7 linked regions of the Homo sapiens genome follow. The protein of the gene in region 5 purifies or fractionates together with the protein of the main gene of each other region. This does not show direct contact. Each region holds a gene or a part of one and is shown on either strand. Other genes may lie near its edges.

Region 1 (3,500 bases), on a different chromosome or scaffold from region 5:
TGAAGCTGCCTCTGTGCACATTACACCCATGAACTTAGACCAGTTGCCTTTATGTATGATCGTATTTATACTGAGAAGTTACTGTGTTTTTTGACTTTCTTTTCTATTTGCTACATATTAGTTCGGTCTAAACGTTTGGTCTTCTGGTCTCCATAGTTCTACATTGGTTAAATGCAACTCACTTCTGGGAGTAGTGGTGACATTCAACTAGTAGGCTTTTTAATAAACTACAGAAGTTCATTACTCTCATGTAAGGAAGGAAAACTAATGTAACTTTCGTTAAGTATGAAAAGCGTTGGATATCCTTATAGTTCTTTAGAGTTAAGGGTGAGATGGGTTTAGAAAGTGGCCAGGCACAAGTTATTTTAAAATAAAAAATCTTTGGCTGTTTGTTCCAATATATTAATAGTTTTCCCTTTTTTACAGCAACGCAGTGTGCATATTTTATCTGGTTCTCCGAGCTCTGGACACACTGGAAGATGACATGACCATCAGTGTGGAAAAGAAGGTCCCGCTGTTACACAACTTTCACTCTTTCCTTTACCAACCAGACTGGCGGTTCATGGAGAGCAAGGAGAAGGATCGCCAGGTGCTGGAGGACTTCCCAACGGTGAGTGGGGTTACGCATCTTGTCTACGGACTGTTGTGTTCATAATTGCTAACGTGGTTGTCCGGTAGCCTCCATACATGTGGAGAAAGGTTAAATAAGCATTCTGAGGGCAGCATAATGTGAGGGTTAAAAACTCCGGTAGCCAAGACTCTGAAGCCAGGCTGCCTGGGTTGGAATCTCAAATCTCCCACTTACTAAACTGTTGGTTACTTACAAAGACTCTCTGTGCCTCAGTTTCTTCATCTGTAAAATAGGGGTAATAATAACACCTACCTCATGGTATTCTGAGGATTCAAAGAATTAACGTAGGTAATGCTCTTAGAATGTTAGCTACTGCTGTTATTATCAGTATTGGAAGTCCAGTGTTTCTTCCTGTGGGAAGACGCAGTCAAATTTTAGTGTTGTGAAAGATTCTCAGGCTAGCTCACAAAAGCCTGCCGACTGTATGATGCAGCCTACCTGTAACACTGCTGGCCTCTTGACTACCCGGAGCCTGGTAGCATGGGACTGCTGCTCACGATGGGCAGCAGCCTGGCATGGGGGCGGTGTCTGTTGGCAGCTAGGGCGAGCCTCTGCCACTTCACCTGTGATCCTGGGCAAGTTCCTTATCTGCTTTGTGTCTCCGTCTCCTCGTTTGTAAAGTTAGAGCTGAGAGGATTAATTTCGCACATATAAAGTACTTAGTGCCTGGTACAGGGTAAGTATTCTGTAAGTATTAGCTATTTGGTCTATTTTGTTGGAGTAAAGTGGGTTATAGTTAAAATCCTAAGATTTTTAAAGTCCCTCAAGTTCATGTGGACATCTGCCTAGGTCCTACTATCCTAGAATTCGCATGTCTTATCACACAAATAACTGATTCTTCCATATCTTATAAATAAAGGTTTGATTTAGCAAAGTCACATGTTGTGTAATAGCTCGAAGAAGCCCTTTTTGTCCACAGTTGCCAGAGCTTTTGGAGAACAGTCCTTATGTTATTGAAACAAACCTAATCTGTAGCTGAGTTGGGAGGGAGCTAAGTGGACAGAGAGTCCTCCACCCAAACAAAAGAATCTTTGATTCTTGGGCATAATGGGAGCAATATTTAAAAAAAAAAAAAAAAAAAAAAAAAGGAATGTTTGGGGAAGACTCTTGCGGTGCAAAGGCTGTTTCAGATTGCTGAGATCAGACCTTAAGTACCAAAGCCCAAATATAGTACAACATAATACAAATGAGAAGAAAATAGCTGAAGAATAATTCGAGTTTATACAGTACAATTCAAGAGAAGAAAGAAAATTTATGACGACTAGCTGGGTGAGAATTAGAACTGTAACCCTGGGAAGGTCCTGGTGATTTGACTCTCACAGGACACCTGATGACCAGAGGATGGGTTTCCTTTGATGGGAAATCTGTGGCGATTCATTGATGGGCCTCTGAATTCTGCTGAAGCAGAGGAAGTAGTAATACCCCATTTATAATGGAAGTGCATTCTCACTTAAAAACAACTAATATTATTCTAGCTGGACCTAGCCTCTAGAAACAGCCAAATTACATTTGACTTGAGTGGATTCATAATAATTAAAAAATTTCTGGGGCATGGGATAAATGTGTTAGGTATTGCTAAGTCAAGGCAGCCCTATCCCCTCAGCAGAAGTGAGGGAATATGAAAGTGTGTGAATGCTAACATAATTTTGGGGAATATCGCCGTCAGATTTCCAGATGATATTCCAACATGTTTGTGAAACTTCAGTGTCTTCCTGTGTTCATACAGTGTTCCAGTGGAAAAATAATGCTTAGTTCTGGAAGGTTTCAGATGTGAACACTGAACTCATCGTTTTCTTTTTTGGGTAGTAGAGTTAGAGATTCCATCCTCTTGAAAGCACAGTTGCCCCGGGAAGAGTAAAAGGGAGCAGAAGGCGTAAGCCAGGCACGGCTGTTTTCACTGTTGTTCACCTTTTGTATCCTTACGAATATGAAGATGTACTAAGTTGTGTGTTTTGCGTGCATATATAATTTTAAGCTACTTGAGTTGTAGGTCCCTCCAGTCTGTGATTCAGTTTGAGATGGGACTGTATGGGAATTAACAGTGCCTTGTCTTCTTAAGGAGTGATTTGTGTATGTGCTGATATAGCTCAGTATGTCTTTGAAACCAGTTGTCTGGGGCTAGGCCTGCAATCAGCTTTTGGCTAAGAGGTCCCAGGATGGAACAAGTAGTGTGAAAGAGGACTGATACCTTGGCCTCACACACAGTACTGCTCTTAGACTGGGGCAAGTGAAACTCCTCACTTCAGAGTGCCCCATTCTAGGCCCCCTCACTCCCAAAGGGGTGAGGGATCACTGGGGCCATGGGAATGTGCTTGTTCAGCTCTCGTGGGCTCTCCTTCTGTACCACGTTCTGGACATCTGGAGTTCCTTGCCCCAAATCCCTGAGCCCACGTCTGCGTCCGCACAGTCTATTTCCTAAGGTCAGTCCATCTCCTCCAGGTGGGAACGTGCCACCATTGACTGTGCCCTTGGGCCTGAGTGATGGCCAAGGGCTGTGTTGGGGAGTGTTGTGGATGGATCCTGGCACCGAGGGCTGGGATATCCTCTCAAATGAATGTGAGGTGCCTCCCAGTGCTGGAGAGAGCGGGATTCAGGAAGCAGTGGAAGGGAAGAGCCTGGGATATGGGGATCAGCTGTCTGTGCCCTGCTGCATTCTGGAATAAAACTCTGAGGGACTAAGAATTCTAAATTCAAACCTGAATCAACCAGGTTGTTACAAAGATAAGTTTGTCAGTGCAGGAGGATACAATATATTTTACTTAAGTTACTAGCTCGATTGATCATTTTTAAATTTTTAGCTACATATAGTATGTGGGCCTCCATTTGTCCTCTTATCCCAGGCCTTGCAGAATTTAGGAATAAGCCTCAA
Region 2 (3,500 bases), on a different chromosome or scaffold from region 5:
GAATGGTTAAAATTACCCTTGATGATCCTTCATATCACTTATAAATGTCAGTACAGTATACATGATTTTGTGTATACTAGCCTGTATAATATATGTGATATCTACAGTATGTAATAATACTTTGTAGGCAGTGAGCACAGTTAAGACATAGGCAAAGCCCACATGGTTTTGGGCACAAACATGCAACATAAGTTGATGATAGGAGCGAGGGCAGGGAGTGGCAGGAGATGGGGCAGAAAATTAGATTGAGACTAGATTGTGGAGGGTATTGGGTGTGACACCGAGTACTTGGGCTTTAGTCGGAAGGCATAAAAGAGTCATAGTTCAGTGTATTGATCCAACTGGGAAGTAACATTTATTGAGCATCTTCCATATTGCATTTAAATTTCACCACAACTCAGAATTATTTTACAGAAGAGGAAATCTCTGAGGGACAATATGTACATTTAAGGAAATAGTGGGTGAATAAATATAACTGTCCATGTTATATATTTTAAAATATATAAAAAACACTGTCCATGTAGTATATTTTTTCTTGTTCTGTTTTAAAAAACTAGTTGAAATTGCCTAAGTTAAATGTGAAAATGATGTGACTCTAAAATATATATATATAATTTTTAAAATTTAATCTGAGGTTTTAGAGATAGCCATTTATTAAATACCTTTGTTAAATGAGTGTTTCCACCCATAAAAGATGTAGGTGTTGTTTGAGAATTTCATTGTATTTTGTGTTTTCTCTACAATGCATTCTAGTTATTCTTTTACTTCAAATTCTAATGGCTATGGTAGATTCCTTCATGAGTATTTGTTTAGCATTAGAGGCATACTTCAGAAATGTTGTGGGAGTGGTTCCAGACTACCACAATAAAGTGAATATCACAAAGCTGTCAGATGAATTTTTTGGTTTTCCAGTGCATACAGAAGTTATGTTTACACTCTACTGTAGTCTGCTAAGTGCGCAATAGCATTACCATCAGCAGTAAGGCTGTTCTGCTTTCTTATCATTCATCCGTTCACAGAAATGGGCTTTTAATTTTCTTCAGGAACTTTTCCTTTGCATTCACAGCTTGGCTATTTGGCACAAGAGGTCTAGCTTTTGGCCTGTCTTAGCTTTAGCCATGCTTTTTTCACTAAGCTTAATCATTTCTAGTTTTCATCTAAAGTAACAGACATGGGAGGCCTCCTTTCACCTGAGCACTTAGAGGCCATTACAGGGTTATTAATTGGCCTAATTTCAGTATTGTGTCTCAAAGAATAGGTAGGTCTGAGGAGAGGGAAAGAGACCAATCAGGAATGGCCTTCATGAACTGCTTCATCTTATATTTGTGCAGTTTGTGGTGCCCCAAAACAGTTACAATAGTAACACCAAAGAGATCACCGTAACAGAACAGATCACAGATCACCATAATAGATTAATAATGAAAACATTTGAAATAGTGGAAGAATTGGCAAAGTGTGACGCAGAGACATGAAGTGAGCACATGCTGTTGGAAAGTGGCACTGATAGTCTTGCTGTATGCGGTGTTGCAACAAACCTTCAATTTGTAAAAAATGAAATATCTATGGAGTACAATAAAATGAGGTAAGCCTGTGTATTGCTTTTTCCTTGTGTTTCTCAAAGAAAACTATTTTGTCTTGCAGGACCTTATTTAATGAACTGAGGATTGTTGTTGAACACATAATAATGAAACCTGCTTGCCCACTGTTTGTGAGAAGACTTTGTCTCCAGAGCATTGCCTTTATAAGCAGATTGGCACCAACAGTTCCATAGTTTAACATCTAGTTAAGCTACAAATATAGTATAAGCATTATTAGCAGCTGGTACTTCTGCTAGGGGTTGTAAATTCCAGGTGTTACACTGACCTCAATCCAATTTACATAATTTACATAAATGCATCTCGGTGGAAAAATAATCATTTTCTTGGCATGTTAAATCAAGCTTAAAAAGTTTTGAGAAAATTTTACTGCGCTGTGTTGCTAATGGTTAAAGAAGTCTGTATCTAGTGATAAATATACCAGTTTTTTTAAAAAGATGCTGTTGTGCCTATATCATGAAGTACATTAATTTCTCATGTAAAAAAAATAGCTCTAAAATTTGTTTCAACCTAATTGGTAACCTGAGTTTATATCTGGCATGAATTCATTATGGTGATACACATATGTGAATTCAGTACATTTTGAGACAGTATTCTACCATTCAGTAATTTTGGTTAATGATTTTAACACTTCTCAGTGTATTTAATTTCAAATTGTTTTTTTAATTGGTTTTATGCTGCTTTGTTAGGACAGATGTGTTTTGAATGTACCATTATAAGAAGAATTCTATGTATCTTAAACTATGATCTTCTAAAATTTTATTTCCGTAAGTACTTCTGTGGCCTTGAGTATTTTTTAAAAGGCTCAACTGTAAGCCTCTTAGCCAGTTGGATAAATATTTGGGGTCACCTAGCCATTGAAAGCAGAAAGCAGTAGTGACACAGCTTTCCCTTCAAAGAGCCATTGAGAAACATTTCTCAAACAGGAAATCCTTCTTTTACTAATGTGGACATATAGATTATTCGTATTATAGTTTGTAGAACTACCTAGTTCAGAATCTTGACTGCCAGTTTTCTTGGTTTCTTAGGCTTGAATTTTCATAGACAATTGCAACAGTTTAGATGCCTTTTGAAAGGAATGTAATGAAGATTCAGCATCTGACTATATGTGTGTCTATCCTGAAATAATAATGGAGAGTATACTGTAGATTACATGTTTACCCATCAAATCTGACTTAAAAGGTTAAATGGAAGGTTTTATAGGTAAGGTAATTGATTGGGAATGGGGTAGGGGGAGGAGTTGTGGGGGAATAATGTGCATTTCAGTCTCAACGCATAGATAAATTTAGGGGAATTGGATGTATTATTCAACTTTGATTTGGGTTGTAAAATGTGTTAAATCCTGTTCATTGAACTCCCATCAACTCTTATAAAATTCATGCTGATCTTCATTACCGTTGCATGATTGGAAATGTTTAAAACATTGTACAGTTTTAGTATAGAGAAATGTAATGGTTTTTGTGACCAGTTTCTGTCTGCATGTAATTTGGATTTCTCAAATACATTCATTAGTAATTTATCAGTAACATTAGTTTTATTTTTGTTCATCTCCTTATCTATAAAAAGGGGATATTCTTAGGATAAATACATGAAAAATTATACTTGATAGCTTAACTATAATCAGCTATTTTTGTATTTTTGTAATATTTGTCCACTAAGCTGGAGAAGCAGCCTCATACAGTTGATTTTGTGTATGTGGCTAGTCTTATTGTCACTATGTAAGTAATCCAATGGTTTTAGAAACTAAACTTTCTAGAGCAATAAAATGACTATAATGTTAAGTAAACATAATGTTGATTTCTAATTATGTTTTAAAAAATGAAGTCTTGAATTATATCAAGAAATTTTGGCAGCTGAAGTCATGTTTATTTTGAAGCTGTTAGTTTTTTCCTATAATTTAAAAAG
Region 3 (3,500 bases), on a different chromosome or scaffold from region 5:
ATATGTATTCTGTTGTTATTGGCTGAAGTATGCTGTAGATGTCGGTTGGTAGTATTGTTATGGTGTTTTGTATTCTTGATTTTTTTCTGCCTCTTCATCAGTTATGGAGAGGGGTTTTGAAATCTTTGATAATTGTGGATTTGTCTGTTTTTCTTGTAGTTATGTCACTTTTTGCTTCATGTATTTTGAAGTGCTGTGATTAAGTATATGCACATTTAGGCTGTCATGTCTTCTTGATGGACCAACCCTTTTTTTTATACAAGATACCATCTTTATCCTTGGTAATATTCTTTGCTCTGAAACCTACTGCTGTGGTGTTAATGTCTCCCCCAAAATTCACATGTTGGAAACTTAATCTCCGATGCAACAGTATTGGGGCGGGAGGTGGAGGGTGTTTAGGTGATGAGGGCTCTCCCCTCATAACTGTATTAATACTGTTATAAAAGAGCTTGTGGCAGTGTGTTCTCTTTTTTCTACGTAAGAAGACAGCATTTGTCCCCCTTTTGCCATTTCTACCCCCAACCATGTGAGGATGCCACAAGAAGTCCCTCAACAGATGCTGGTGTCTTGATTTTGGACTTCTCAGTTTCCAGAACTGTGAAGAAATACATTTCTGTTTTCTATAAATTACCCAGTCTCAGGTATTTTGTTATAGTACCACACAATGGACTATGATACTTACTTTGTCTAATACTAATACAGACACTTCAGTTTTCTTTTGATTAGTGTCAGGTGGTATATCTTTTCCCATCCTGTTAATATTAACCTACTTGTGTATTTATATTTAAAGTGGATTTTTGGTAGACAGCATCTAATCTTTCATCTAATTTCACAATCTCTTTTGTTAATGGAATGTTTAGAACACTTAATGTGATTATTGATGTGGTTGGGTTTAAATTCGTGAGTTGCTATTTGTTTTCTGTTTATCTTAACTGTTCTGTGATTCCTTTTTTTCTGTTGTCTTTAGGATTAAAGGGGTATTTTTAAATTCCATTTTTTAATTTGATGACTTACTAGCAGTGCTCTTTGTTGTTGTTTTTTTTTTAAGTGGTTGCTTAAGGGTTTATGGTATACATGATAGAATTTCATGTGTAGTATAAGAACCTTAATATATTACCACTTTTTTCTGGGTTCTTGCTATCGTCATTATACATTTTACTTCTATACATGAGTCCTACAATACATTATTATTTTTGCTTTAACTTATATTTTAAAAATATATAAAATGTTTAAAAATTTTTTAAAAATTTGCTGACATATTTACCATTCCCAGTGTTCTTCATTTTGTGTGTGTGTGTGTGTGTGTGTGTGTATGCAGATTTTCATGTGGTACCATTTTTTTCACTCTGAAGAATTTCTTTTAACATTACTTACACTTAAAAATATACTGGTGATGAATTCTTTTCATTTTGTGTGTCTGAAAAAGTCTTTATTTGCTATAGTGTTTGAAGGATATTTTTGTTGGGTATAGAATTCTAAGCTGACATTTTTGTTGTTTCAGTACTTTAAAGATATTGCTTCATTGTCTTCTGGCTTGCATTGTTTCTGATGAGAAGGTTGCCATCATTCTTTGTTCAACTATATGTAGCGTGTCTTTTATTTTTCCTCTTTTGCCTACTTTTAAGAGTTTCACTAGGTTTTTAATTATTTAATTATTAAATTATGTTTCTTGTGCCCTTGTATTATGTTTCTTGTGCCTGGGGTTTGTTGAGCTTCTTGGATCTGTGAGTTTACAGTTTTTATTACATTTAAACATTTTTGGCTATTATTTCTTCACGTTAGTTTTTCTATGCTGCTTCTCCTCTCAGGAACTCAAAATACACTTACATTAGACCACATGAAATTGTTCTACAGTTCAGTGATGTTCTATTCATCATTCTCAGTCTTTTTGTGTGTGTGTGTGTTGTTTTAGATAGTTTTTACTGCTAGGTCTTTAATTCACCAATCCTTCTGCAGTATGTAATCCACTTTTAATATTACCCAGTTTATTTTTTATCTCAGGCGTTGCCTCCCACTCCTCCCCCTGCCCTTCTAGAAGTTTAATATAGGTCTTTAAAAAATTATGTATCATTTCTTTCCTTAACATCCTGTATTAGCCCGTTTTGACGCCCTGAGACTGAGTAACTTACAAAAGAAAGAGGCTTAATTGGACTTACAGTTCACATGGCTGGGGAAGCCTCACAACTGTGGCAGAAGGCAAGGAGAAGCAAGTCACATCTTATGGTGGCAGGCAAAAAATGAGAAAGCTTATGCAGGGGAACGCCTTTTTTTTTTTTTTTTGAGACAGAGTCTTACTCTGTCACCCAGGCTGGAGTGCAGTGGCGCAATCTCGGCTCACTGCAAGCTCCGCCTCTTGGGTTCACGCCATTCTCCTGCCTCAGCCTCCCGAGTAGCTGGGACTACAGGTGCCTGCCACCACGCCTGGCCAATATTTTGTATTTTTAGTAGAGATGGGGTTTCACTGTGTTAGCCAGGCTGGTCTTGATCTCCTGACCTCATGATCCACCCACCTTGGCCTCCCAAAGTGCTGGGATTACAGGTGTGAGCCACTTCGCCTGGCGGGAATGCCTCTTTTTAAAACCATCAGATATTTTGAGACTTATTCACTATCATGGGAACAGCATGGGAAAGACTTGCCCCCATGATTCAGTTACCTCCCACCAGGTCCCTCCCACAACACAGGGGAATTCAAGATGGGATTTGTGTGGGGACACAGCCAATCCATATCATTCCACCCCTGGCCCCTCCCAAATCTCATGTCCTCACATTTCAAAACCAATCATGCCTTCCCACAGTCCCCCAAAGTCTTAACTCATTTCAACATTAACTCAAAAGTCCACAGTCCAAAGTCTCATCTGAGACAAGGCAAGTCCCTTCTGCCTATGAGCCTGTAAAATCAAAAGCAAGTTAGTTACTTCCTAGATACATTGGGTAAATACAGCCATTCCAAGTGGGAGAAATTGGCCAAAACAAAGGTGTTACAGGCCCCATGCAAGTCTGAAATCCAGCGGGGCAGTGAAATCTTAAACCTTCAAAATGATATCCTTTGACTCCATGTCTCACATCCAGGTCACACTGATGCAAGAGTTGGGCTCCCATGGCCTTGGGCAGCTCCACCCCTTTGGCTTTGCATGATATAGCCCCCCACTCCTGGCTACTTTCACAGGCTGGCATTGAGTGTCTGTGGCTTTTCCAGGTGCACGGTGCAAACTGTCAGTGGATCTACCATTCTGAGGTCTAGAGAACAGTGGCCCTCTTCTCACAGCGCCACTAGGTGGTGCCCCAGTAGGGAATCTGTGTGGGGGCTGCAACCCCACATTTCCCTTCCACACTGCCCTAGCAGAGGTTCTCCATGAGGGCCCCGCCCCACAGCAAACTTCTGCTTGGGTATCCAGGTGTTTCCATACATCTTCTGAAATCTAGGCTGAGGTTCTCAAACCTCAGTTCTTGACTTCTGTGCACTCGCAGGCTCAACACCATGTGGAAGCTGCCAAGGCTTG
Region 4 (3,500 bases), on a different chromosome or scaffold from region 5:
CAGACACGCGCCACCACACTCATCTGATTTTTGTATTTTTAGTAAAGACACGGTTTCACCATGTTGGCCAGGGTGGTCTGGTTCTCTTGACCTCATGATCTGCTCGCCTCAGCCTCCCAAAATGCTGGGATTACAGGCGTAAGCCACTGTGCCCAGCCGACTATTTTTAAATTTCTACTGATACTTGACAGTACGTGTACAAAATCCTTCAAAGTACAAACTGAATAAATATCAACTAAGAGCTGGCTTTTTGCTAAACTCTAGACCTAAACTTTAAAGAAGTGGGGTAACGGAGTAATAATGGTAGAGAAAAAGGCCACTGGAAAGCAGCATGCTGAACAATTCCCAGAGCTCACACATGGGGCCTAGAGTGGTCTGTGTTACCACCTATCCTCAACTTTGTTTTCTCTGAGGCTCAGGTCCTCCTCTTTGCGTTGATGACACTATAGCTAGCTTCTCCCCAGAAAAAAAAAAAAAACCTACGAACATCTTAATTTGGTATTGTTAATGCCTACTTCCTTTTATACACCCACCCCGCCCCCCAGTCCTGCAACGCTGCTGCTCTGTTTGAAACCCTGTAACTACCGTTTTCTATCTACTGTTTTTTTTTCTGCCAATTAGTGATTAGCTAGCTCTGTTTAACACTCACCCCTCAACTCCCTGCAGAGCTACACTTCACGTTGTATCCATATATAATGCTTCCCTTATCAAGGCTCTGGCATGCTTCTTCCTCACCAATTTCTGATTTGATGTGATTAACAGAAAAAAAATAAATTAGCTATCATATAATAAAATATTTTCATTATGCAGTGATGAAGCTGAGGCTCAGGAGAGTTAAGAAGACTTTCCTAAATCCACACAACAAATTAGTAGCATCAAATCTTTTCTGCTTACTGCTTCTTCTGCTATATCATGCTCTCTTTCTCCTGCGAAGGGGCCAGAAATTAGCCCTGAAATATGTCTCTAAACTCAGACTTAAGCAGGTAGAAAGGTGTGTGTCACATGAATATACTGGGATTACTCAGACCAAATCTAATCTAAAATTACTTCTATCCTACTTCTATTCCTTCCCTTTCAATCATTTGTTGATTTTCAATGATTCAATAAACATACAAAGATATCCCAATTACCGTGTGCCAGGCACTATGTTAGTCATCTGGGGATTACAACAGTGAATATGACAGAAATTGCAAAGCTCTCACAAATCTGATGGTCTCTCCATCTCTTCCTTATGAGCTCCTATGTGACTCTGCATTTAATCCAGCCCTATTCTTTATCTTCTTCCAAGTCTCAAGAGTTTGATGGACAAACTTGGTTCCAAATTATGCTAGCTATACACTTATTTGGAATAGCTAAAAAAAAAAATTTTAAAACAATAAAACCACTGACAATACCAGGAGCTGACAAGGATATGCAGCAACCAGAACTTGCAAACATTGCTGGTGGGAATGCAAAATGGGATGGCCACTTTGGAAAAGTTTGGTAGTTTCTTAAAATCCTAAATATACACTTACAATAAAACCCAGAAATTCTACTGAATATCCAAGACAAATGAAAATGTATATTCACACAAAAACCTATACGTAATTATTCACAGCAGCATTATTCATAATTACCAAAAACTGGAAACCAGCCAAATGTCAGTCAGGGAGAATGGATAAACAAAACCGTAGTACATCCACACAATGGCATACTACTCAGAATAACGACAAACTACTGATCCATGCAACATGTTGAGTTAATCTCAAATGTATTATGCTGAATGAAAGAGGCCAGACTCAAAAGATATGATTTTAAAATCTTTTACTGGATTATTTCATTTATATGACATTCCAGACAAGGCAAACCCAAAGGATAAGGAAACAGATCAGCGGTTGGCAAAGATTACAAGTAGGGAGATGGTTTGACTACAAAGAAACAACACAATATAAGTTTAGGGGGTTGGTCCAGCGGTGGCTCATGCCTGTAATCCCAGCATTTTGGGAGGCCAAGGGGAGCAGATCACGAGGTCAGGAGATCGAGACCATCCTGGCCAACATGAGGAAACCCCATCTCTACTAAAAATACAAAAATTAGCTGGGCATGGTGGCGCGTGCCTGTAATCCCAGTTACTAGGGAGGGTGAGGTAGAAGAATCGCTTGAACCTGGAGTCAGAGGTTGCAGTGAGCCAAGATGGTGCCACTGCACTCCAGCCTGGTGACAGAGTGAGACTCCCTCTCAAAAAAAAAAAAAAAAAAAAAAAAAAAAAAAAAAGAAGAAGTAGTTTAGGGGGTTGAGGAAACTGTTCTATTTCCTAGTTAGGTCACATTACAGCAAAGCTGTCCTGATCCAGACCCCAAAAGAGAGTTCTTGGATCTCGCCCAAGAAAGAATTCAGGGTGAGTCCACGGTGCAACCTGAAACCAAGTTTATTAAGAAAGTAAAGGAATAAAAGAATGGCTACTCCACAGACAGAGCAGCCCTGAGGGCTGCTGGTTGCCCATTTTTATGGTTATTTCTTGATGATATGCTAAACAAGGGATGGATTATTCATGCATTCCCTTTTTAGACCTTATAGGGTAACTTCTTGACATTGCCCTGGCATTTGTAAACTGTCATGGTGCTGGTGGAAGTGTAGCAGTGAGGACCACCAAAGGTCACTCTTGTCGCCATCTTGGTTTTGGTGGGTTTTGGCCAGCTCCTTAACTGCAACCTGTTTTATCAGCAAGGTCTTTATGACCCGAATTTTGTGGTGACCTCCTATCTCATCCTGTGACTCAGAATGCCTTAACTGTCTGAAAATGTAGCCCAGTAGGTTTCAGCCTCATTTTACCCAGCTCCTATTTAAGATGGATTTGTTCCAGTTCACACATCTCTGACAGTCACAAGACTATACACATTTGTGAAAATCCATAGAAAGTATATTTTTTAAAAAAGTGAACTTTACTGTTTGTAGATTTTTAAATAAATTTTTAAAAAATTATGCTATGTATATAAAAATCTGACAATATTTACTATTCTCTTATAATACGGGGAATTCTAATTTTCTGGATTATTTCAACTATAGTAACACCTAAAATGTATATAGCTTTTAAAATATTTCAGGCACTGTTTCATATATTTTACATGCCGACCTGTTCACCAGTCACAGCAATCTCATAATGTAGGTATTTTCATTACCTTAATTTTACATATAACGATACTGAGGCAGCAAGGGGTTAAGGAACTTACTTAAGGCTACACAGCTAGTAAATAACAAAACTGGAACTTTAAGCCAGGTAACTTGGTGTCAGAGTCCACACTCAGTCTGAAATGTTACACTACGCTTCCTTTTCAAGCCATGTATTACATCTGTAGTTAAATATACACCTATTTTTAAATAGCCTATAAAATAAAGATGTTACAATTATAAACTAAATTTTTAATACCTCATACAAAACTTATTCTGAATTTTAGAATTTATACAAACTTAGTGAGATAGCCTTATGTCTTTCTTATCTTACTGTTACTGGCAGGTGTTTG
Region 5 (3,500 bases):
AATTCCACTTCTGGTTATAGATGCAAAATAATGGGAAGCAGGGTATTGAAGAGATATTCGTACTTCTATGTTCACAGCAGCATTATTCACTATAGCCAAACATGAAAACCCATGCCCATGGACTGACGAATGGATGAATAATATTCCATTGTGCAATATTGCTAAAATCTCTTCTCTTAGCAATTTTCAAGAAACAAAATGTGGTCTATCCACATTTGGAATATTATTCAGCCTTAAAAAAGGAAGGACATTTTGGCCGGGTGCAGTGGCTCATGCCTGTATTCCCAGCACTTTGGAAGGCCGAGGCACTTTGGAAGGCCAAGGCAGGAGTTCAAGACCAGCCTGGCCAACATGGTGAAACCCAGTCTCTACTGAAAATACAAAAATTAGCCAGGTGTGGTGGCATGCACCTGTAATCCCAGCTACTTGGGAGGCTGAGGCACGAGAATCGCTTGAACTTAGGAGATGGAGGTCCCAATGAGCTGAGATCACACCGTGGCACTCCAGCCTGGGCAGCAGAGTGGGACTCCATCTCAAAAAAAAAAAAAAAGGAAGGAAATTTGGGCAGTCCTACAATGCAGATGAAGCTTGCAGACATTGTGCAAATAAAGCAGTCACAAAAAGACAAATACAGCATGATCCCACTTATATGAGGTGCCTAGAGCAGTCAAATCCATAGAGACAGAAAGTAAAATGGTGGTTCCAGGAACTCGGTGGTGGGGGGAGAGGGAATGGGGAGTTGGTGTTTAATGGTACTGAATTTAAATTTAAATTTTGCAAAATGAAAAGAGTTCTGCAGATGGATGGTAGTGATGATTGTACAACAATGTGAACGTGCTTAATGCCAGAGAACTGTATACTTAAAAATGGTTAAGATTGGGCTGGGTGCAGTGGCTCACGCCTGTAATCCCAGCACTTTGGGAGGCTAAGGCAGGCAGATCACTTGAGGCCAGAAGTTCAAGATCAGCCTGGCCAACATGGTGAAAACCGTCTCTACTAAAAATGCAAAAATTAGCCAGGTGTGGTGGCATGCACCTATAATCTCAGCTAGTCAGGAGGCTGAGGCATAAGAATCACTTGAACCTGGGAGGCAGAGGTTGCAGTAATCAAAGATCGTGCTACTGCACTCCAGCCTGGGTGACAGAGTGAGACTCTGTCTCAGAAAAAAAAAAAAAAGGTTAAGACGGTAAGTTTGATGTTATGTGTATTTAATCATAATTGGAAAAAAAGCTGCAGCCTTCTTCCTCTATCCTCCAATACCATATTCTCCTTTTTCTTTTTTTCATAGCACGTATCATCGCTAATAAACTCTATAATTTGCTTATTTATTGTGTTTAGTGTTTGTCTTCCCTCATGAGAGTTTCACAAGGGTGGGATCTGATGTATCCCAAGTGTGTGGGATATTGCTGTCAGTTTCACCTACTACTGGATTCCAGTGTAGACCAATATAGACAGGCCAAATGATTAGGAACACTTCATGAATGAAAAACCAGAAAAATCTGTCTGTCGGCTGTGTTATTTTCCCTGACAGTGGAACCACTATTAAGTTTTAGCAACTGTGTAGCCCAGTCTACCTGGAAAGACCAGACATAGCTTTGTTTCTTCATGTCTATTTTCTGCTTCCCCATATTCCTTTTTTAAGACAGGCTCTCACTCCAGTTGCCCAGGCTCGAGTGCAGTGGCACAATCATGGCTCACGGCAGCCTCAACCTCCTGGGCTCAGCTGATTCTTTCACCTCAACCTCCCCAGTAGCTGAGACTACAGGCACATGACACCACGCCTGGCTCATTTTTTATATTTTTGGTAGAGACGGGGTTTCGCTATGTTGTCCAGGCTGGTCTCAAACTCCTGGACTCAAACAATCCACCTGCTTTGGCCTCCCAAAGTGCTGGGATTACAGGCTTGAACCACCATACCTGGCCGTATTTCCTTATTTTCTTTGACTAAATCAGGGAGGTTGGGAGAACAGCAGTTTGACTACTGATTACATGAAATTTTTTTAATTATTTTAATATTTTAAAAAATGTTAAATTGACAAATAAAAATTACATATGTATGGTGTAGAACATGTTGTTCTGAAATACGTGTAATTGTGAAATAGCTAAATCAAGCTAATTAACATATGCATCATCTCACATCCTTTTTTGTGGTGAGTACACTTAAAATCTCCTTTCTTAGCAATTTTCAAGTATACAATACTCTAAATTGTTATTAACTATAGTCTCCATGTTGTACGATAGATCTCTTGAACCTATTTCTCCTGTCTAACTGATTTTTTTTTTTTTCTGAGACAGTCTCGCTCTGTTGCTCAGGCTGGAGTGCAGTGGCGTGATCTTGGCTCACTGCAACCTCCACCTCTCAGGCTCAAGCGATTCTCCTGCCTCAGCCTCCTGAGTAGCTGGGATTATAGGCACCCACCACTGCACTCGGCTAATTTTTGTATTTTTAGTAAAGACGGGGTTTTGCCATGTCAGCCAGGCTGGTCTTGAACTCCTGACCTCAGGTGATCTGCCTGCTTCAGCCTCCCAAAGTCCTGGGATTAGAGGCATGAGCCACTGCGCCCAGCCTAACTGAAATTTTTTTTACCTGCAGCAACTCCCTAATTCCTCCAAGCCCCTACCAAGCTCCTGGTAATCACCATTCCACTCTCTGCTTCTATGAGTTTGACTTTTTCAGATTCCACATATAAATGAGATCATGCAGTATTTGTCTTTCTGTGCCTGGCTTATTTCACTTAACACAATGTCCTCCAGGTTCGTTCATGTTGTTGCAAATGAGTGGATTTCCTTCTCTCTTAATGCTGAATAGTATTCCATTGTGTTTATACCACATTTCCTTGATCCATTCATCTCTTGATGGACACTTAGGTCGATTCCATAGGTTGGTAACTATGAATAATGCTACAATGATTATATGACTATTGCTGTTGAAATTGTCCCAGGTAAACTCTTTGAGCCCATGTTAAGCCAGGCAAGTATTTGTGTTTGAGTTCTAGGGGAGAAGCTCTGCATAGAGACACAGGACCAGAGGAGGTGGCAAAGGCACACGTGAGACTTCCTGCTGGCTCCCATCCGCCTGAGACCTAGTGGGGCCAAAGGAGGGGGAGGATCCCTAGACAAGGAAGAGAGATAGGGCATCATTGTCACTCACTTCAGGCAAAAAGTAGGGAGTTATTGTAATAGCCTGGGCATCCCCCAAGGGAACCCACCACAGCCTTTAAAACCTCACACTCAGAGTTGCTCACACCCCTTCATTTCAAAAATGTTTACATTTTATGCCAGCCAGCTTCACTTAAGAAATGTGTGTTTCAATGACTTAAGGGGAATAGTCTGATTGTTGAGTGCCTTATATAAGATAGTGCAGTGGCCCTCGTCTATAATCCCAGCACTTTGGTGGGGGCCAATGTGGGAGGATCGCTTGAGGTCAGGAGTTCAAGACCATCCTGGACAACATGGTGAAACCCTGTCTTTACTAAAAATACAAAAATTAGCCAGGTATG
Region 6 (3,500 bases), on a different chromosome or scaffold from region 5:
ACTCACACCTAAGACACATAGGTACATACTATGTGTTCTGTGCATGGTTCATAAGTAACTCAGTTGCTACAATTCAAACTAGCCAAATGACATAAAATTAAGTAATAGTATGTCTTCACAGCATTGGCTTTATTATTCAAACCAGTTGTACCAATATCAACTATTTACCAGAGACTGACAGTGTGGAAAAAAAAGCAGTTCATTAAAATATATCTATATATCCATTTATACCCATATATATTTTAATTTTATCCATATATATGGATAAAAAGCTTTAAGATGTCCTATTGGTAAAGAACAGAAAGGAATCATCTTCTGGTCCATCTGCTTTATATTTTATTTCTAATGTGGTAACTTATGTTTAATAGCAAATATTCCAGAGGTTAAGATAGGTTCTTTGGAAATTGAATATGAAGAACATGGACCATAATGTTTATAATCCTTTTTGTTATGGCAGACACATAACTTGACCATCCTCCATGCCCACCATGCATGGGATTGCTTTTGGCTGTATTTATCAGAGAGTATGATGTAGGAATTCTTAGTAATTCAAAATGGTTTTCCTATTATCAGTACCTCAAATAAGAAGGAAAAAAGAATCAGACATTTTAAGACATAAACACTAGTTCGTTTCCATGCCAATAAGGAAAATATTTTTCTCCTTCATAGAAAAAAAGAAGGCAGGAAACTATGCGTGATCAGAAAGTTACATATCTTTTTCACTGCAGAGTATATGTGCTTTTAAAGCAAGAGAGAAAACCAACAAACAGTACGAGAAAGACTAATGAAAGACTGACCGGGCACAGTGGCTCATGTCTGTAATCCCAACACTTTGGGAGGCCAAGGCAGATGGATCACCTAAGGTCATGAGTTCAAGACCAGCCTGGCCAACATGGTGAAACCCCATCTCTATTAAAAACACAAAAAATTGGTGGCAGATGCCTGTAATCCCAGCTACTTGGGAGGCTGAGGCAGGAGAATCGCTTGAACCCGGGAGGTGGAGGCTGCAGTGAGCTGATTGCGCCACTGCACTCCAGCCTGGGCAACAAGAGGGAAACTCCATCAAGAAAGAAAGACAGAAAGAAAGAAAGACAGACAGACAGAAAGGAAAAGAAAGAAAAGAAAGAAAGAAAGGAAAGAAAGAAGAAAGAAAGAGAAAGAAAGAGAAAGAAAGAAAAAAAGAAAAGAAAAGAAAAAAGATTACAGAGGCAGTGGAGTGAGAATAGCTAGAGCCTGGGAGGTCAAGGCTGCAGTGAGTCATGATTGCACCACTGCACTGCAGCCTGGGTGACAGAGTATGACCCTGGCTAAAAAAAAAAAAAAAAAAAAAAAAAAATTAAGATGAGTCTATAGAATACCTATAATGAAGTATAAAGAAAAAAATGCAGTCATTCAGTGGTCAAATCTTTTGGTGTTTAATTACAGTGATCTCATTTACCACTATCCACCATTTTGTTTTTAAATGCAAAATGGAAGAGTCAGTCACAGTCAAATATAACAATGCGGAATGTGGACAGACATCCCTACACTTAAGACTGAATTGGTCCCAACACACCTGTGACCTATGTCAATTAACTTCAGTTTGTGGCCTTGATTTCCACATCTGTTACAGGTGGCTATCACCCTAGCAGCTTAGTCTCTAAGACCCCTTTTAGCTAACATTTTATAACTCAAAACTGAATGTGTGTGTGTTTGTGTGTGTGTGTGTGTGCACCCAGGAGTTTGAGACCAGCCTGGGCAACATGGCAAAACCCCATCTCTACAAAAAATACAAAAAATTAGTACACACCTGTAGTCCCAGCTACTCCAGAAGCTGAAGTGGGAGAATCACCTGAGCTTGAGAAAGTCAAGGCTGCAGTGAGCTGTGTTCATGCCATTGCACTCAGCCTGGGTGACAGAGTGAGACCCTGTCTCAAAAAAAACACACTCAAAAAAACCAGGCTGGAGTGCAGTGGCGCAATCTCGGCTCATTGCAACCTGTGCCTCCTGGGTTCAAGCAATTCTCCTTCCTCAGCCTCCCAAGTGTGTGTGTGTTTTTTTGAGACAGGGTCTCACTCTGTCACTCAGGCTGAGTGCAGTGGCATCAACACAGCTCACCACAGCCTTGACTTTCTCAAGCTCAGGTGATTCTCCCACTTCAGCTTCTGGAGTAGCTGGGACTACAGGCGTGTACTAATTTTTTGTATTTTTTGTAGAGATGGGGTTTTGCCATGTTGTCCAGGCTGGTCTCAAACTCAAGCAATCCACCCATCTCAGCCTCCCTGCCTGTCCCCCCAAAAAAACTGTTTGAATGATTGATGGTAAAAAAGATTAATGCCAGGAGCAATAAAAGAGCAGATGCAAATCCCACTGGGACAACCCTTTGTCAATAAAACCAGTGGTTCTATAAGTATCTGTGTCAGATTGGTATCATAAAGTTTAACTTAATCTCAAGTAACCTCACAACTTAGAAGGGGAACAACCTAAGCTGCCTTTTCCTAGGTAAAGGAGGGCCACCTTAGATGCGGACCGCAGTCTAGACAAGTGAGCGATCCCTTAACTAGATCACTTGGTCTATCAGAGGCTGCAGGATATATATAGTAGACACATGACTCAGAGTGACTGATAAGCTCCACTCCCTGGAATCAGGAAAGTGTGCAAGTGACAGAATGAAGTCAGGGTACGTTTCTACAGCCCCCACTTATATTTCAGCTGCTACAAAAAGTAATTTCATTCACAATTTTGAAATTGTTTTAAAACTTCTGCCATATTAATTCATACTTCCCCAAAATTAATTGTTAATGTTATGAATCACCACTAAATACCTTAACATGTTATATTTGTATTTATACTTGTTTTAAATGCCATGTGAAAAAATTAAGTTGAAAACTGAGTCCTCATTCAAAGTCAGTCCTGAAAAAGAGAAGTCCAGGTCAGAAGGAGATGAGGGAGGCTACGACAGAAAGAAGGACAAATAGACTAAATCTCCAGGGCCTTCATAAAGAGAAAAAAAAAAGCTCATAAGGAACATTCCAGAATAGAGTATTAGAAATGAGATCCTCCTCCACAACTGCTTTAGAGCCCAGAAACTCTGATCATGAATAAATAATTTAAATCATTCATCTTATTTGCTTTTTAAAACTTTATTTTCTTTATGACACAGGCAAGCGGGCGAACCTTAACTGAAACGCTGGCTGTCATTATTTTACAAAATAGTCACAAGTTGTTATAAGGATATTTTTATTACTTTTTCATTTCTCCACAACACTTTCATCTTAAAAGAGTCCAGCACTCTTAGCAGTAATGTTAAGTGAAACAAGGACAGTAAAAAAGTTGAGGAAGGTTAAATGTTTAAATGCTTAAGATTTCAGATTTAAATTAAGTAAATTAAAGATTTAAATGTTTAAGTAAATTGCTTAAGTCACAGTTTGCAGAATGCCTGTTATATTTTTTATCCAAGTGCACATCGGCCAGAAGGCCACATTGGCTTGTGCTTCATACTACCCCAGAAGGCAAAGCGC
Region 7 (3,500 bases), on a different chromosome or scaffold from region 5:
TGGCCCACAGACCCTGAGGTGTTTCCTTGGTGGCTCTTCACAGAATGTTTGCTGCCCCTAGTATAGAGGGTAGAGCCTCCTGGGTAGGGCTGTCCTGTGGCTCACTGTTTTTTGTAGGCCAGGTACCCCCTTGACACCTGACATCTGCCTCAGTCCCCTCACAGTTCAGCCTTCAAACTTGAGTCCTCTGTGTCATATGCCTAGACCCCCCACTTCTGAGGAGAAAGCCTCAGCTTTCTCCTTTCACGATCCCTTCTCTCTCGGTGAATGGCCAGTGGGTTGGGCTCTCTTGCCCCCACCCATGTTGGCATTGCTTGCCTTTTAGGTACCCATGGGACGGCTCCTGTTTCTCCCATTCTGAGAGCATCTGCTTATAATTCTAGGGCCTGTGTTTGGAAGCAAAGATAACTTCCACGGCTTAGCCATCTTCCTGGACACCTACCCCAATGATGAGACCACTGAGGTAGGCCCCTGCTCTATCCTGCTGAGCAGGAAAGGAAGGACTGGGCAGTCGGCTAGAGGAGGGGGCCCTGGGACTTCCATGGTCCCAGCACAAGAGGAGCCTCCAGGGATTGGGGTGGTGGGTGCCCCTGCTCGCCCCACAGGCTGGGCTGCTTGTGGAGTAACCGATGTCTTGGTCCCAGCGCGTGTTCCCGTACATCTCGGTGATGGTGAACAATGGCTCCCTGTCCTACGACCACAGCAAGGATGGGCGCTGGACCGAGCTGGCGGGCTGCACGGCTGACTTCCGCAACCGCGATCACGACACCTTCCTGGCTGTGCGCTACTCCCGGGGCCGTCTGACGGTGAGCAGGCTAGGCGGTGGGGGTGGCAGCTGGTGGCCCTGTGCTGGTCCCACAGAGGCTCAGGAGGGCAGGCTGCTGTCCTGCGAGGTGCTTAGCGTGCTGGGCCCTGCAGGTGATGACCGACCTGGAGGACAAGAACGAGTGGAAGAACTGCATTGACATCACGGGAGTGCGCCTGCCCACCGGCTACTACTTCGGGGCCTCCGCCGGCACCGGCGACCTGTCTGGTGAGTGGGCCGGGCCAGGCGTTGGTTCCCAGCCCAGCTCACCCTGAGGGACTGGGAGCTTTCCATGCAGTTGATTGCCTGCCTTCATGTGGTTTCTGAGCTCACCTGGCTGTGTTCCTCCTCCTCCTTTCTTCTGTAAATGGCCTGTCCGGGCCTCAGTTCCTGTGGTTTCTGGGCTCACCTGGCTGTGTTCCTCCTCCTCCTTTCTTCTGTAAATGGCCTGTCCGGGCCTCAGTTCCTGTGGTTTCTGAGCTCACCTGGCTGTGTTCCTCCTCCTCCTTTCTTCTGTAAATGGCCTGTCCGGGCCTCAGGCCTTGAACGGTCCCTTGGCAACCTTCCCCATCAACAGGAGGCAGCGGGTCAGTTAGATTTGGGCAATGTAGATTCCCAGATTTATCTCCAGCCCAGACCGCTCTGGACCTGCTCAGCCCTTGTGCCCACAGCTGAGGCCACATCTTGCCCATCGGGATGTCAGTGGCACCTGTGCCCCTCTATTTGCTTGCTGTCTTTCCGGACCCTTCTTTCTCTCACATGGCACCTCTGGTCCATCAACAGTCCCTGTGGCTTTATTTTCACAGCACGTCTCACCACTTCCCTCCCCTCCCTGACTACCTGGCGGCTTCAGGCCACCAGTGTCTCTCACAGGAGTCTCCCAAGTGGTCCCCTCCTTCACCAGCCCCCAACAGTCTCTCGTGAGCACAGCAGCCGTGTAATCGCCTTCAGTAATCGCCTTCAGCCCGTGTGAGGCCTCCTGCTGCTCTGCGCAGAGCTCTGCAGGGGGCGCCAGGGCCTCTGTGCCAGCCCTGCCACCTCTGGCTCCCTGCTCACTGCTCCCCCTGCCTACTGTGGCTTCCAGCTGCTGCCTGGATGCGCCTGTGCCCTCCTGCCCCGGCTGTTTCACCCTTGTCTCCTAGGGCCTTGCTCAGATGTTACCTCCTCAGTGCGGCCTTCCCTGATGCCCTCGTGGAATGTCGTGCCCCCTCCTGTGTCCCCAGCCCACTCCCCAGCATCTTTGCTGGCTTTATTTTTCTTCATAATATTTACCATCTTTGAGTCTACCGAGTAATTAATTTTATTGTCTCTGGCCCTCCTGCTCAATTGTAAGCTCTATAAATGGCTGTTTGGCCCAGGGCAGGTGCTCAGCGAGCACTGGGGTGCCTCTAACCTGCTCAGGCCTCACTGGTCACCAGGCCGTGGTGGCCCTTGGCTGTGGTTCTCGGTTTCTCTTTGGGGCCCTGAGCAGGTGCCAGGCCCAGGGCCAGCTCCTGACCAGAACTGGCACGTGACACGGGGGACCTGACATGGGCGGTTTATCCTCAGGATGACCCATTCCAGGGCCTGTAGTCTGCCCACTGCCCAGGAGCCTCCTCTCTCAGCATGGAAGTGCTTGGGTCCGCTCAGACCCCAGAACATCCATTGTTTGGGGGTTTTTCAGTCACATACCCAGCAGAGGAGAGAGGTCTGGTAAGCACCCTTCCTGCCAACCAGCTTTCATCATTTCCAGCTCGCGCCTGGCTGGTTTCCCTCCTGCCCCGGGTTGCCTGGAACTTCATCACACTGTTTCAGCCCTTGTCTTTGGAGGGTTCTTGATAGGAGCAGAGCAGCACCAGTGCTGTGGCCGGTGGCAGCTCTCACAGCTGTTGGGAGAGCCCAGCACAGAGTGGAGGAGGCACCATGAGGGGAGCCGTGTCTGACCACTGGTCAGGGGTCATCAGTGCCAGGCACCTTACGGGTGATGTCACCTGATGTATTTTTAGGCAGATGGCCATCTCGTTCCCTTTTTACTCAACCATTGGGAGTTTGAAAACTGAAAGGATTTTTCCTAAGATACGAGCAGGAAGCAGCAGAGCCCAGATGGGAACTGGGGCCTGACTCCAGGGCCGGTCCTTGTCCTGCAGGGCCGCTCGCCGTCTCCAAGGGCTGTGCATGCTCGGCTCTCACACTGTGTGCCTGGCCGAGCTCTTGCTCATTAGGTCCCCCCTTGGCTCCAGAGATTCCTGCTCCCTTCAACAAGGCCTTTCCTCAGATTCCAGTCCCAGGCTGACCAGGACCCACGTGTCGGCTTTGAGCCTCAGCCTCCTCATCTCTACAATTGGGTGATCCATCAGCGTCAAGCCAGGGCTCTTCCCTGTGCATGCCATTGGACAGAGCCTTTCCCCAGTCTCCTCAGGCACAGCTGCTGACCTGCGTTAGGCTCAGGCCCTTAGCTGGTTGCCGAGTTGTTCCCCTGCAGCCTGTATGTGGGTCTCTGTGGCAAGAATGTCTGGTGGCTCCTGCCCTTGGGACCTCAGCCTTCTCAGCCAGTCACACAGCGACTGTTGGTCTTTCCCGGGTCTGTTTTTGAGCACTTATTCTGCAGGCAGGCCATCTTCTGTGTGGTGTAGACCCTTCTCATGTACTTGCCATGGCAACCACACAGATGGAGATCATCACTCCTCTACATGTGCGGAACATGAGCCTCAAAGAG

What was found.
Region 1: the proteins of SVOP (region 5) and FDFT1 purify together in Homo sapiens (affinity purification with mass spectrometry; one large-scale study listed by BioGRID and IntAct). This does not show direct contact.
Region 2: the proteins of SVOP (region 5) and TMEM33 purify together in Homo sapiens (affinity purification with mass spectrometry; one large-scale study listed by BioGRID and IntAct). This does not show direct contact.
Region 3: the proteins of SVOP (region 5) and HS2ST1 purify together in Homo sapiens (affinity purification with mass spectrometry; one large-scale study listed by BioGRID and IntAct). This does not show direct contact.
Region 4: the proteins of SVOP (region 5) and LCLAT1 purify together in Homo sapiens (affinity purification with mass spectrometry; one large-scale study listed by BioGRID and IntAct). This does not show direct contact.
Region 6: the proteins of SVOP (region 5) and REEP5 purify together in Homo sapiens (affinity purification with mass spectrometry; one large-scale study listed by BioGRID and IntAct). This does not show direct contact.
Region 7: the proteins of SVOP (region 5) and LMAN2 purify together in Homo sapiens (affinity purification with mass spectrometry; one large-scale study listed by BioGRID and IntAct). This does not show direct contact.

What each region holds. Positions count from the first base shown.
Region 1 is NC_000008.11:11,809,241-11,812,740, forward strand, and holds part of FDFT1 (squalene synthase), read left to right. Parts: exon of another isoform or gene 1-250; intron 251-426; coding exon 427-610; intron 611-3,500. UniProt on the Homo sapiens protein: Catalyzes the condensation of 2 farnesyl pyrophosphate (FPP) moieties to form squalene. Proceeds in two distinct steps.
Region 2 is NC_000004.12:41,952,429-41,955,928, forward strand, and holds part of TMEM33 (transmembrane protein 33), read left to right. Parts: intron 1-1,641; coding exon 1,642-1,771; 3' UTR 1,772-3,500. UniProt on the Homo sapiens protein: Acts as a regulator of the tubular endoplasmic reticulum (ER) network by modulating intracellular calcium homeostasis. Mechanistically, stimulates PKD2 calcium-dependent activity. Suppresses the RTN3/4-induced formation of the ER tubules.
Region 3 is NC_000001.11:86,921,135-86,924,634, forward strand, and holds part of HS2ST1 (heparan sulfate 2-O-sulfotransferase 1), read left to right. Parts: intron 1-3,500. UniProt on the Homo sapiens protein: Catalyzes the transfer of a sulfo group from 3'-phospho-5'-adenylyl sulfate (PAPS) to the 2-OH position of iduronic acid (IdoA) or glucuronic acid (GlcA) within the heparan sulfate (HS) chain and participates in HS biosynthesis.
Region 4 is NC_000002.12:30,520,246-30,523,745, reverse strand, and holds part of LCLAT1 (lysocardiolipin acyltransferase 1), read right to left. Parts: intron 1-3,500. UniProt on the Homo sapiens protein: Exhibits acyl-CoA:lysocardiolipin acyltransferase (ALCAT) activity; catalyzes the reacylation of lyso-cardiolipin to cardiolipin (CL), a key step in CL remodeling.
Region 5 is NC_000012.12:109,011,069-109,014,568, reverse strand, and holds part of SVOP (synaptic vesicle 2-related protein), read left to right. Parts: intron 1-3,500.
Region 6 is NC_000005.10:112,912,228-112,915,727, forward strand, and holds part of REEP5 (receptor expression-enhancing protein 5), read right to left. Parts: intron 1-3,500. UniProt on the Homo sapiens protein: Plays an essential role in heart function and development by regulating the organization and function of the sarcoplasmic reticulum in cardiomyocytes.
Region 7 is NC_000005.10:177,334,669-177,338,168, reverse strand, and holds part of LMAN2 (vesicular integral-membrane protein VIP36 precursor), read left to right. Parts: intron 1-383; coding exon 384-463; intron 464-644; coding exon 645-806; intron 807-918; coding exon 919-1,033; intron 1,034-3,500. UniProt on the Homo sapiens protein: Plays a role as an intracellular lectin in the early secretory pathway. Interacts with N-acetyl-D-galactosamine and high-mannose type glycans and may also bind to O-linked glycans.